Regions from separate parts of the Homo sapiens genome. Here regions 1 and 3 are each linked to region 2. Evidence: fine-mapped expression QTL. A gene starts in region 2. Each other region holds a variant in brackets. All regions are shown on one strand. Distances are between the middles of the regions. Region 1 has its middle 24 kb from the start of LINC01072. Region 2 holds the start of GJA3 (gap junction protein alpha 3). Region 3 holds the start of LOC105370101 (a long non-coding RNA gene).

Region 1 (4,000 bases), 35 kb after region 2:
CCTCCAGCCTCTGCCCCCACGGTCGCCTCCTCTCCCTCTCCTACGAGGACACTTTGATGACATTTAGGGTCCGCCCGGATCATCCAGGACAATCTCCCTAACTCTGGACCCTTAGCCTGGCCACATCTGCAGAGCCCCGTGGGCGATAGAAAGTGATGTTTGCAGGGGCAGGGATCAGGGCCTGGGCACGGCAGCCCGCCACTGGGGGTGGGTATTCTGGGCTGGATGGCACTGTCACCCCCCGCCTTGAAAGTCTCGTCCTCCCCCACGCTTGGACTCGTGGCGCTGAGCAGAGACGCGGGCGCTCCTGGAATCGACGGGAAGCGCCCCGCTGACAGGCCTGCGGCGGGAGACCCGAGCCCCCAGCGCCACCCCAGGGCGGAGTCCCACCCACCCTGTCTACACAGAGATTCAGCTAAGAGCCTGCACTCGAGTCCAAAGTCAGGCCGCGTGAGAAGCCACGGCGGCCGCAGGGGCCCATGCGGTGAGGTCAGCGCCGGCCCCACAACCCGACCGCGGAACCCGGGCTCCCCCTCCGCCCGGGCCCTGGCCGGCCCCGCTGGCCCGCGGTGAGGAGACGGCCTTCTTGTGCCTGCGCGATTCAAACGCTGGAGCTACTCTAAACAAGGCCTGGCCACCCCGGACACGCCGAGGGAGCTGGCGGCGGTCAGGCTGAAGGAGAGGGGCCGTCACCGCCCCGCGGGAGGCCGCGGTCGCACACTGGCGGGCAGGGGACATGGGACACCCAGCTGCCGGGCAGCAAAGAGGGGCAAACTCGAGAGTGGGAAAGTAGGCGATGCTGACTTAGCGGCTGCGGGGGAGAACGGCCCAGCGGAGGGCGCCACGCCACGGCCGGTGCCGGGAAGCTCCTGTTCCGGGGCTGCTCTGTCGCCCGCCGGATGCGGACGCGCACGCTGGGCACCTCCCCTCGGCCACCAGACCTCACCTCACAGCTGACCTCACCCTCAGGGCCCCAGCATTGACCCTGAGGGACGCGCGGGCTGGCCCTGCTGCCCACTCGGGGTACGCCCCCGAGGGACACGCCCGCCTTCGCTCTCGCAGGGCAAGGTTGCTCAGCAACTTCCCCAGCCCCATGGACACCCGGGGCGGCATCCTGATGTTTCAGTTGGGAGGAACCAGAGAGAATCAAGACTTGGTCCAGGTCCTGCACATGGCTCACGCCTATAATCCCAGCACTTTGGGAGGCCGAAGTGTTAGGATCACTTGAGTGCAAAAGTTCAAGATCAGCCTGAGAAACACAGTGAGACCCCGCCTCCAAAACAAGTTTAAAAAAAAATTAGCCGGGCATGGTGATGCAACGCCTGTAGGTAGTCCCAACTACTAGTGAGGGTGAGGAGGGTGGGGGGTGTGGAGGCTGCAGTGAGCTATGATGGCGCCACTGCACTCCAGCCTGGGCAACAGAAGGAGACCCTGTCTAAAAAAAAAAAAAAAAAAAGAAAGAAAGAAAATAAATAAAAAATAAAAAAAGCTTTGGTCTGAAGGAAAAAACGTGGCCTAAAGACTTGCTTGAGGTCACACCAGGATGCAGAAAACATAAGCAGTGGCTCCGGGAAGGACTGTGGGTTAATAAGCACGGTTGGTAAATGGCAGACCCCCAGCTGAAGCCCAGGTCCTCAGATGCAAGCCCACAGCTCCTCCACTAAGCTGTGACTAACACTAGAGCCAAGGGAGCCGCAGGGGTACAGAAGCGATGCTTGCCATCAAGAAAGGAGGTTTGGGTGTGGTGAGAGGTAGAGGAGGGGGGTGAGAGGAGAGAAGGGAGGGGGTAGGGTCAGAAAGGCGGGTCGGCACCCCTACCTCCTCACTAACAGAGCAGGCAGAGCTCTCAGCCTGGGCATGGTGGGGCCCACTATGGTGAGATCCTGCTGAAAATACCCTGCGCTTTGAAAACAGCCGCATCCAGAAATCCAGGATCACTGGGAGGGGATTGCAGTCCAAAGAGATGACGCTGAGCAACGATGCTACCCACGTTTGTGTGAGCTGAGCACTTCCTAAAACTAGAGGCTCCGTTTCATAGTAGCCTACTGCTTCTCTAATTTTAGCTTACCCAAGAGTCACTTGGAGGCCTTGTTAAAAATAGATTCCTGGGGCCAGGCACAGTGGCTCACGCCTGTAACCCCAGCACTTTGGGAGGACGAGGCGGATGGATCATGTGAGGTCAGGAGTTTGAGACCAGCCTGGCTAACATGGTGAAACCCCATCTCTACTAAAAATACAAAAAAAAAAAAAAAAAATTAGCTGGGAGTAGTGGCAGGTGCCTGTAATCCCAGCTACATGGGAGGCTGAGGCAGGAGAATCACTTGAACCTGGGAGGCAGAGGTTGCAGTGAGCTGAGCTCGTGCCACTGCACTCCAGCCTGGGTAGCAGAGGGAGACTCCATCTCAAACAAACAAACAAACAAACAAAAATGACAGCCAATAATGTCCATTATTTACAAGGCAAAGACAGGCACGAATATACCTGCAAC[C/T]TAGATAATTCCCAAAGTTACTTAACTGCTTCCTTTTTAGGTGGTTGGTCGTCTGACATTTTTGGCAAGATGACCACAGAAATGAAGTGTGCCCTTCTCAGTGCATCACACCAAGGGGTGCATGATACCATAGTGACTTTGTTAAGCACACCTTGGCTGTTTGGTTACGGGGCATCTTCCCAGTTTCTCTACTATAAAGCTAACAACTTGGGGAAATACTCTGAGATTATGCAAAGCCTGTCTCCTCACAATTTCCCCCTGGGTTTTAGCATCCATCAGTTGCTCTTGCCCACAGCATTTTTCCTGGGGGCTTTGCCCACGGCTGCTTTTCTGTTGCTCTCTTTCCTTCTGTGTCTGCTCACCGGACCACTCCTTCTCAGCTGCCTCTGTCTCCATGTGGGCTCACTATGGGCTTGTAGACAACGAAATCCCAGGACTTTTACTGATAAAATATCTAACATTTGTAAATGCACAGTTTACAAACTGCTCTCACTTACACTATCTCATTTGATTTCCTCACATGAACAGCTGCCCAGAAAAGCCTCTGCATTCTGGGACCCCTGCAATGGGCATTTTTCATCCAGCCTCAGTGGAACATCCAACACTGTCCTCGCTGAATCATCTTGTTAATTGGGTGCCAGCCCAACTAGTTGAGTCATTTACTGTATTAACTTGGCGTCACTGGAAAATGAAGTACATGGACTTTCTCTGTCATTATTCAAGTCATTGGTAAAAATATTGAACAGGACAGAGCTAAAAACCTGTAAATTTTTATTTTCAATAACACTTTACTATTAACTGGACTACCCAAAGAGATAAAGAAAACGAGTAGTAGGGAGTTAATGAATTATCTTACATGTATTGTTTCTTAGAAATTCTGAAGTCTATATTTAGCCAGATCACATGCTCTGTGACTGACAATAAATTCCTAACAACGGCAGAATTGTTTGTCTTCAGTTACTTTCTCTGGCAACTGTACTGGCTACCATGTGATAAATGAAACAAAAATCTCTTTGAAAATATGCATATATCACTATCCTTCATATAGAAAATAAGTGCATTATCTTACAACATCAGAGCAATTGTAGCCTACTGTGTGCCTGGTGAACAGTAGGTGTTCAATAAATATGTGTTGAAGTAACAAATGAATGGATGAATGAACAAATGAGTGAATGACTGTAAAACATAGAAGGTAAGAGGTTTAAAAGCACAGGTTTGTTTTTTATTTCTTTTTTTTTTTTTTTTTTTTTTTTTTTTTTTTTTTTTTTGAGATGGAGTCTCACACTGTTGCCCAGGCTGCAGTGCAGTGGCGCAATCTCAGCTCACTGCAACCTCTGCCTCCCAGGTTCAAGCAATTCTCCTGCCTCAGCCTCCTGAGTAGCTCAGATTACAGGCACTCACCACCACACCTGGCTAATTTTTTGTATTTTAGTAGAAACAGGATTTCACCATTTTGGCCAGGCTGGCCTCAAACTCTTGACCTCGGGTGATCCACCTGCCTCAGCCTCCCAA
Region 2 (4,000 bases):
AATGTTATTAGAATATGGAAATGTGACATTCAGCACTAATCAGTTTGACATATGAATATATCTATACACATATTTCTCCCTGAAATTGGCCTAAATACTCTTTCTTGGAACCAAATGAGAAGCAAACAACCTTTACAACTAAACATTAAACCATAAGATGAACATCTTAGTTGTCTACCTAGAAATTGTACAGTATGACAAGTGTAAAGAAACTGCTAGCTTCTTAGTTGTGCTGGTCTTTACACAATACCACTTTAAAAATTGTTTTATGGTAGTAAAATATACATAACCTTTAATTTACCATTTAACCTTTCTTAATGTGTACAGTTCTGTGGCATTAAGTACATTCACATTGTTATGCAACCATTACCATCATCTGCTTCCAAAACTATTTCTATCTTCCCAAACTAAAACTCCGTACCTATGAAACTCTATCTTCCCGTTTCCCACTGCCCCAGCTGCTGGTAACCACACTTCTACTTTCCGTCTCTATGATTTTGACTGCTGTAGGTACCTCATGTAAATGGAATCATACAGTATTTGTGACTTTTGTGACTGGCTTATTTCATTTAGCATAATGTACTCAAGGTTCGTCCACGTTGTAGCATGTGATGGGGCTCTCCCTTTTTAAGGCTGAATAATATTCCACTGTAGGTATGCAATACATTTTGTTTATCCATTCATCCATTGATGGACACCTTTTGGCTATAGTAAATAATGCTTGTATGAACATATATGTAAAATATTTGTTCGAATTACATAATATAATTTAAAATCTATATTTTAATAAAAATTTTAAAATTATTACAATATTATATTTCCATTTTTATCCTCAGAATACCAATAATAGCATTTGGCAAACAGACTACAAATATTAACAATTCCTAGTGCTTTTGTGATCAACAAAAAAAAAAAAACTATTCCTGTGCTTCTCAGAGAAAATGTTTTAAATGAGAAAAATATTCAAGTATTTTAAGACCTTCAAAGGTAGCATTTTTCAATTAAAAATTAAAAACTAAGTCTCCGTAACTACTACCTACTCCATACATACACCGCAAAGTTCCCAAAGGGAGAAGATATTTTAGATGCGCCTTTAGGAGCTTAGTTTTTCCTCCTTGGGATAACTTTAAATTCAGATCTCAGCAGAACAAACGCATTTTTCAGGGCAAGCCAACTGCTAATCCGAGTAGATCTAAACGCTAACGAAGGCAGCCGACGGAAGCTGCTCCATGAAGACACGAAAACTATCAGACTTGCATTTTGCCACATTCCTGGAATAAACTTATTACTCATAAAGGTGATTTTGAAGCCATTTCAGCTTGTGGAATGATCACCGAAATGCAGTCCACCGATATTTGTTAATATCCCAGGCTGGTCAAACCCCACTCCAGACCTTGGGGGACGGGGAGGGGACCCGCGGCCTCTCTAGGCTGTGCCCAGACAGCAGACAAGGACGCGATGCCGCCCTCGGTCCGCGGCCTTCCGCGGTAGGCGTCCCTCTCAAGCGTGGTAAAACCACCCCGAAGGGAACAGAAAACGTTAAAATCTTCGTTGGGCGCCAGCAGGCAGGTTAGGCCTCGCCCTGGCATCTCGTCTCCAGGACCAGATGGAGCGAGTGACCCGCGGGGACACCTTCCCGGTCACCTCGAGCGCAATAAAACAAGTTCTTTTTTTAAAAATAAGCATCCGTGTGCCTGCCGGCTAAATTAAGTGTGTCTGAAGAGAAGCAGGATGGCGGCCGCTATTTATAACCTCCCGCCCCGCCCGGGCGCCACTCCTCGACAGCACCCACGCTGTGCCCGGCGGCGCTTCCGCGGGGACTTCCTGCTCGGTGGTCCCCGCCCCGCCCCGCGCCAGCCGTCCGGAACCCGCGTCCCCAGGCGGCTGCAGGCGGGCGAGACCTAGGTGCCCGACGCCCACGCGCCTCCGACCGTGGGAGCGCCCGGAGAGCAGCTACCTCGCCGGGCCTGCGAAGCCCAGGACAGGCGCGAGCGGGGCGCGGGCTGGCGCATCTGCGTGCGGTGGGCGCCCCGCAAGCGGGTCGGGCCCGCCCCAACAGCCCTCGGCTCTCCTCTCACGTCCCGCGCGGGCATGCCCCGGAGTGCGTAGGCGGCAGGGAAGAGCCCCCGCGTCCACATCCCCAGGGCCCGCGCAGGTGCGGGATGGGGATGCAGGCGCTAGGCATGGACGTGCGCGCGGGGTAGGGTGTGGAATGCGGACGCGGGCGAGTGCTGTGGCTGCGCGTACAGGGTAGGGATGCGGGGGCGGTAGGTGTGCGTGCTGGGAAGCGCGCGGGGCGGGGCTGTTCGGAGGCGGCGGGGGCGTGGCGCGGCGTCCTGAGCTGCAGCTTGGGGGCGTCGGGCGCAGCGCACACTGGGGCTGCAGGGATGGCGATCAGGGCGGGGAGGTCGGGCCCTGGCGCGGGGCGCACGCGTGAAGCAGCACCGCACGTGTGAAAGGAATTCTTTTCAGAGCGGCCGGGAGCCCTGCTCCGGAGGAACGCACCCGGGTCGCCGCCGCGGCAGAGCGGGGTAAGGCGGGCCGGGCGCCCCGGAGGCCAGGCACAGGGGCCGAGGGCAGCGCGGGGCGGGGACGGGCGGGTCGGCGGCGCAGCGGAGCTGCCGGGCGAGCCCAGCGGGCTGAGACTGCCGAGCTGGGAAGCCGAGCCCCGGCACGTGTGCGGCTCCCAGCCCCCTAGGATTCTTTCAGGATTCTTCAAAAAGTTGTGGGGAGCTCGGGAAATTTGTGAGAAACTTTTGGAATAATTGATCTTCCTCCTTTGCTCCTGGAGGTCTGGAGAGCAGCGCCTCGTTTGGCTTCCCTTGATGGACAGTCCAAGGCCGAGTTTAAGTTGTTTTCCTGGGGTTGTTTTCCCCCTCGGGTGGAGGAAGCCGGGCTGTCCCGGACCGTCAGGCTGTAGGGCTCCTAGCGATGCTGAAATGCTTGAAAACTCTAAGCAGATGTCACCGCGCCAGCTAACGGCGCGCACCCAGCCGTCCACGGGCATTCAGCATCGCCGTGCTCCTAAAAGTCCTGTTGGGATTGTTTAGAAACAAGGTTGGCTCGCCTACATTTTTTTCAGAAACTTTTTAAAACTTTTTATTTTTAAGAAACACTGTAGCTATTAATGCCACGACCAGATTTCTCGACCTGTATGTTTGTTATGATGTGTTCAACTATAAGGAATTTGCAGAGGAGTGGAAAAGCACTGTCCGAGCCCCTTCCCGTAGGAGACTTGAGAAAACAAACGGCAGTGACGCGGCTGCATTTGCTTTGTTGCCGACTCCACACTAGTGAGCAAAATTCATCCTACCATGTAGAGTTCTCGGTTCGTGAATATGTGACTGCAACTTTAGAACTCCAGTTTTTATTTTATCAAGATGTCTCCAAAACATGCCATTTAAAAATGATTCTATACAAACAGCTGACAAGCGAATTATGGGTCTCATCACCCAGGAATTAAAAACCATGGTGATTTATGATGTGCGCATCACTTCACTGGCGGTCCATCCATGTGCAAGACAAACATTAAAAGATTAAAGAGGAAAAAAGAGGGATTTATTTTCCGAATATCAGTGTGTTCAAAGTAAACATCAGCTAGTTTGGCACAGATTCCACCTGCTCAGCAGTTTGGTTCATATCGAGATAAGCATCTCATAAGGGCAATGCATGTGTTGCTGTAGTGGAAAGTAATTCACGAAACGGTACTACTCTAACAAATCAGACAGTACTGTTTCTTAACCAGGAACCGTTAACTGGCTGAAAGCTGTCTTAAAAGAATGGCGGGTAACAAAATTTTTTGCCAATAAGGAAAATATTTTTGACCCAGTTTTCTTGAATGTTACTCACATTTTAACTTATTATATTCATTTCTCTTAGCTAAAATAACGTGTACACACTACATTTGAAACGAAAAATTACGTTTATCGCAGCCTTTTTTTTTTTTTTTTTTTTTTTTTTTTTTGAGATGGAGTCTCGCTCTGTCACCCAGGCTGGAGTG
Region 3 (4,027 bases), 40 kb after region 2:
CCAACCTGGGCGACAGAGGGAGGATCTGTCTCAAAAAAAAAAAAAAAAATTAAAGGCCTAAATGTAGAAGCTAAAACTGTAAAACTCTTAGAATAAAACAAGGGGAAAGCTTTATGACACTGGATTTAGCATCAGTGGTTTCCTGGCTACAACACCAAAAGCACAAACAACAAGAAAAATAGACAAATCAATCAAAAGTAAAAACTGTTGTGTATCGAAGGACATTATCAACAGAGGGCAGCCCACAGAATGAGAGAAAATGTTTGTAAATCATATATCTGATAAGGGTTTAATATTCAGACTATATAAGCAACTCAACAACAACAACAAACCCTCAACTACAAAAAACAAAAAACTCCTAAACTCAATGACAAAAAAATAAACAACCCAATTTTTGTTTTTTTGGTTTTTTTCTTTTTTGAGACTGAGTTTCACTCTTGTCACTGGGGCTGGAGTGCAGTGGCACAGTCTCGGCTCACTGCAACCTCTGCCTCCCAGGTTCAAGCAATTCTCGAGCCTCAGCCTCCCGAGTAGCTGGGATTACAGGCACGTGCCACCATGCCCAGCTAATTTTCATATTTTTAGTAGAGACGGAGTTTCACCATGTTGGTCAGGATGGTTTCGATCTCTTGACCTCGTGATTCCCCCACCCCAGCCTCCCAAAGTGCTGGGATTACAGGCGTCTGCCACCATGCCCTGCTAATTTTTGTAATTTTAGTAGAGACGGGGTTTCACCATGTTGGCCAGGCTGGTCTTGAACTCCTGACCTCAGGTGATCTGCCCACCTCGGCCTCCTAAAATGCTGGGATTACAGGCAGGAGCCACCACGCACAACCCAAACAACCCAATTTTAAAATGGGCAAAGGACATGAATAAACAGTTCTCCAAAGAATACATACAAATTGCTAATAAGCACCAAAGATGCTGAATGTCAGTAATCACTGGGGAAAGGGCAAATCGAAACCACAATAAGATACCACCTTGAGCCCATTAGGATGATAGGGTACATTTAGAGAAATATATTTGGTCTTTGTCCCTGGTTCCTAGCACAGAGCCGCTAAAGCCCTTAGAATTTCCTGAGTGATAGTAGTGTCTTTTGTTATTCATAATGAAGCACCTATTGATCACATCTGAGTTTATGCTACTGAGGTGACTTAGGGTGAACCCTTAGATAGCTTCAGGATGGGGTTGGTCACCGGAAAGACCAGGTAAGTAGGAGGTTGGATCCTTCAGCCTCACCCCTAGACCTGTGAGAAGGGGAGGGGACTAGAAATCAAGCTCTAAAAAAGCTCTTGAACAAGCAGGTTGGAAGAGTTTCCAAGTTGTGGGAATGTGGTGCACCTGCAGCCCCCACCTCATACCTTGCCCTGCGCGTCTCTTCCCTCCAGCTGTTCTATGTACTTGAGCTCAGTCAATGAACACAAATTCCCTACAGTATTGGTCTCTGACACCAAAGAACAACATTTTGACAAATTGAGTTTTAAAGATTTAATTGACTCTTATTAGCAATGTATGAAACAGGCAGCCTCCAGACTACAAAACAGAAGGCACTCGGCTGGGTGTTGCAGAACAATCGGCTTTGGTAAGGCAGCTCAAGCAGGAATGAGGAAATCGTGTGGTGAGAAAAGTGCATTGGTTATCATTGGGTGACTTTCTGAGGCGGAGAATAGGGTCTGGAGGCAGGGAACCTAAGGCCGATTTCACGCTGACTTCCTAGAACTAAATCAAAAGGAAAACCCCAACTTTTCACACCTAAGTAACAAAAAAACCGGAGGTAGCCGGGCATGGTGGCTCACGCCTGTAATCCCAGCACTTTGGGAGGTCGAGGTGGGCGGATCACCTGAGGTCAGGAGTTTCAGCCCAGCCTGGCCAACGTGGTGAAACCCCGTCTCCACTAAAAATACAAAAATTAGTCTGGCGTGTTGGCGGGCGCCTGTAACCCCAGCTACTCGGGAGACTGAGGCAGGAGAATCGCTTGAACCCGGGCGGCGTAGGTTGCAGTGAGCGGAGATCGCGCCGTTGCACTGTAGCCTGAGCGACAAGAGTGAAACTCCGTCTCAAAAAAGAAAAAACAAACAAAAAACCGGAGGCTACTCCCTTTGCAAACCCCCACCCTTTTCTGCCTGGCAGATGGAAAATTGAAAGTGTCTCTGAGGGCAGCCAATCAGACGTTTACATAGGATTGTAACTTTGTAACTTCACTTCAGC[C/T]TCTGATTGGTCGCTTCCCACAACCAATCAGCTTGATTGTGGGCCAAGTCTTCCTTTGCATAGAACTGTAACTTTGTAACTTCACTTTGCAAACAGAGGCTTGCATCGGGTGTAACCTTTGTAACTTCACCTCAGCCTCTGGTTGCAGGTCACTACTTCATTTACATAGAGTGTACACCAGGTAACCAATGGGAAACCTCTAGAAGGTATTTAAACCCCAGAAAATTCTGTAAAAAGAGCCCCTATGCTCCAGCGGCTCCCACCCTGTGGAGCGTACTTTCATTTTCGATAAATCTCTCCTTTTGTTGCTTCCTTCTTTCCTTGCTTTGTTTGTGCGTTTTGTTCAATTCTTTGCTCAAAACGCCAACAACCTGGACCCCTCCACATTTCCTTGTATGAGTTTAAGCGGAGGAAACCTCTCTTATGCAGGCTCAAGTGGACTGGCCCCCTTTTGACTGGTTGCTGGTAGTCTCCTATTTTTTCAGGAAAACTGGCCCTGGTGGGGGATTTTCCTGTTTTGTTTAAGTTTCAGTTTGATTACGTGGCACTTAGCACAAGTGATTCCATTTTGGTCTGGCCTACTGGGGCCTAGTGCAGGAGCTCAGCCCAATTCAATGGCCTCCCATAAATCTTATTTAACACTTAGCACCACTGTGCACATGTGGAAGGTAAAACTCAGAGACGCTAAGTATCTGAGTGTGTCACAGAGCTAGTAAAAGGCAGAGCTGGGATCAGATACATTGATTCATTCACTCAAAAACCTTTTTTTATCGAGTGCATACTATGTATCAGCCTCTGGGTACTGAGCATGGGAGCAGAATCAGACACCCCGAACTGACAGGGCTCACAGACGAGAAGGGGAGACAGTTCTCAATCATAGAAATCACTTGTTCTCACAAACGGTGACACGTGCTATGAAGAAAAAGGCCTGAGAACTAGGAGGGCATCTAGAGGCGCCCTTTCTGGTCTAGGCGTCCTACAGGCAGCTGGAGGAAGACGTCTGAGCTGACATCAGATTCATGGGTAGGAGTCTACCAGGCCAGGGGGGTGAGTGCCTTCCAGTGCACAGAAAAGCTGTCCGGTTCCCGAAAGTTTCTTTTTCTTTCTCTCTCTGTGTGTGTGTGTGTGTGTGTGTGTGTGTGTGTGTGTGTGTGTTTGGGGGTCGGGGCAGGGTCTTGCTCTGTTGCCCAGGCTGGAGTAAAGTGAAACAATCGGCTTCACTGCAGCCTCGACTCGGGCACAAGCAATCCTCCTGTTTCGGCCTCCAGAGTAGCTGGGGCCACAGGAGCGCCACCGCGCCCCGCCTGAAGGTTTCTTCTCTCCATACTGGTAAAATCCTGAGCTGTGTTTGAGCCTCTCACAGGAGGAAGGTAACGTGACCTCCTCCAGCTCACTCACGTGACACTCGGTCCTCCTTGCGAACGGCTCTCTAAGAAGCTGTGGGAGTGACGCGCAGCCCCATTCCTCCACCCTTCTTGTGCCGGGTGTCCCCCACAGAAAAAAATGCGCCGGCCCCAGAGCTGCCGCCGACTGTTAAGGAAGGCCCTTTGCACCCAAGAATGGAAGCGGTGTGGGTCGGGGTGAGGGCCCCGAAAAGGGTGGTGAAGGCCCTGGCAGAGAGAACACTCAACGTTCTCTGCCAGCTGCTTCCCTGCTGGTCCCGGGAGCCCCAGCCTCCCTTCCACAGGGGCGGGGGAGGACACGGGGCGGGGGCGACACGCGTGGGGGTGGGGCGGACGTGGGCGGAGACACATGGGGGAGGGGCAGGCACCTGAAAGGAGGCGACACCGGGAGGAGGGGCACCCCGCGGGGAAGGGGT

Evidence for each region. PIP is the estimated chance that this variant, and not a neighbour inherited with it, causes the effect.
Region 1: its variant is the best candidate, but not a certain one, in a credible set for the expression of GJA3 in whole blood (TOPMed, PIP 0.60).
Region 3: its variant is the best candidate, but not a certain one, in a credible set for the expression of GJA3 in whole blood (TOPMed, PIP 0.71).

What each region holds. Positions count from the first base shown.
Region 1 is chr13:20,124,738-20,128,737 of GRCh38, reverse strand. No RefSeq gene overlaps it. Among named protein-coding and RNA genes, the nearest start is that of LINC01072, 24 kb to the right of the region's middle. RefSeq lists a silencer at 394-613 and an enhancer at 1,064-1,113. The variant C/T (reference allele first, on the strand shown) is at 2,489.
Region 2 is chr13:20,159,421-20,163,420 of GRCh38, reverse strand. It overlaps GJA3 (gap junction protein alpha 3), which reads left to right and starts at 2,369. Exons shown (of 2, transcript NM_021954.4): 1 at 2,369-2,531. RefSeq lists silencers at 1,719-2,078, 2,309-2,388, 2,549-2,638.
Region 3 is chr13:20,118,909-20,122,935 of GRCh38, reverse strand. It overlaps LOC105370101 (a long non-coding RNA gene), which reads left to right and starts at 3,147. Exons shown (of 3, transcript XR_941719.3): 1 at 3,147-3,231. The variant C/T (reference allele first, on the strand shown) is at 2,209.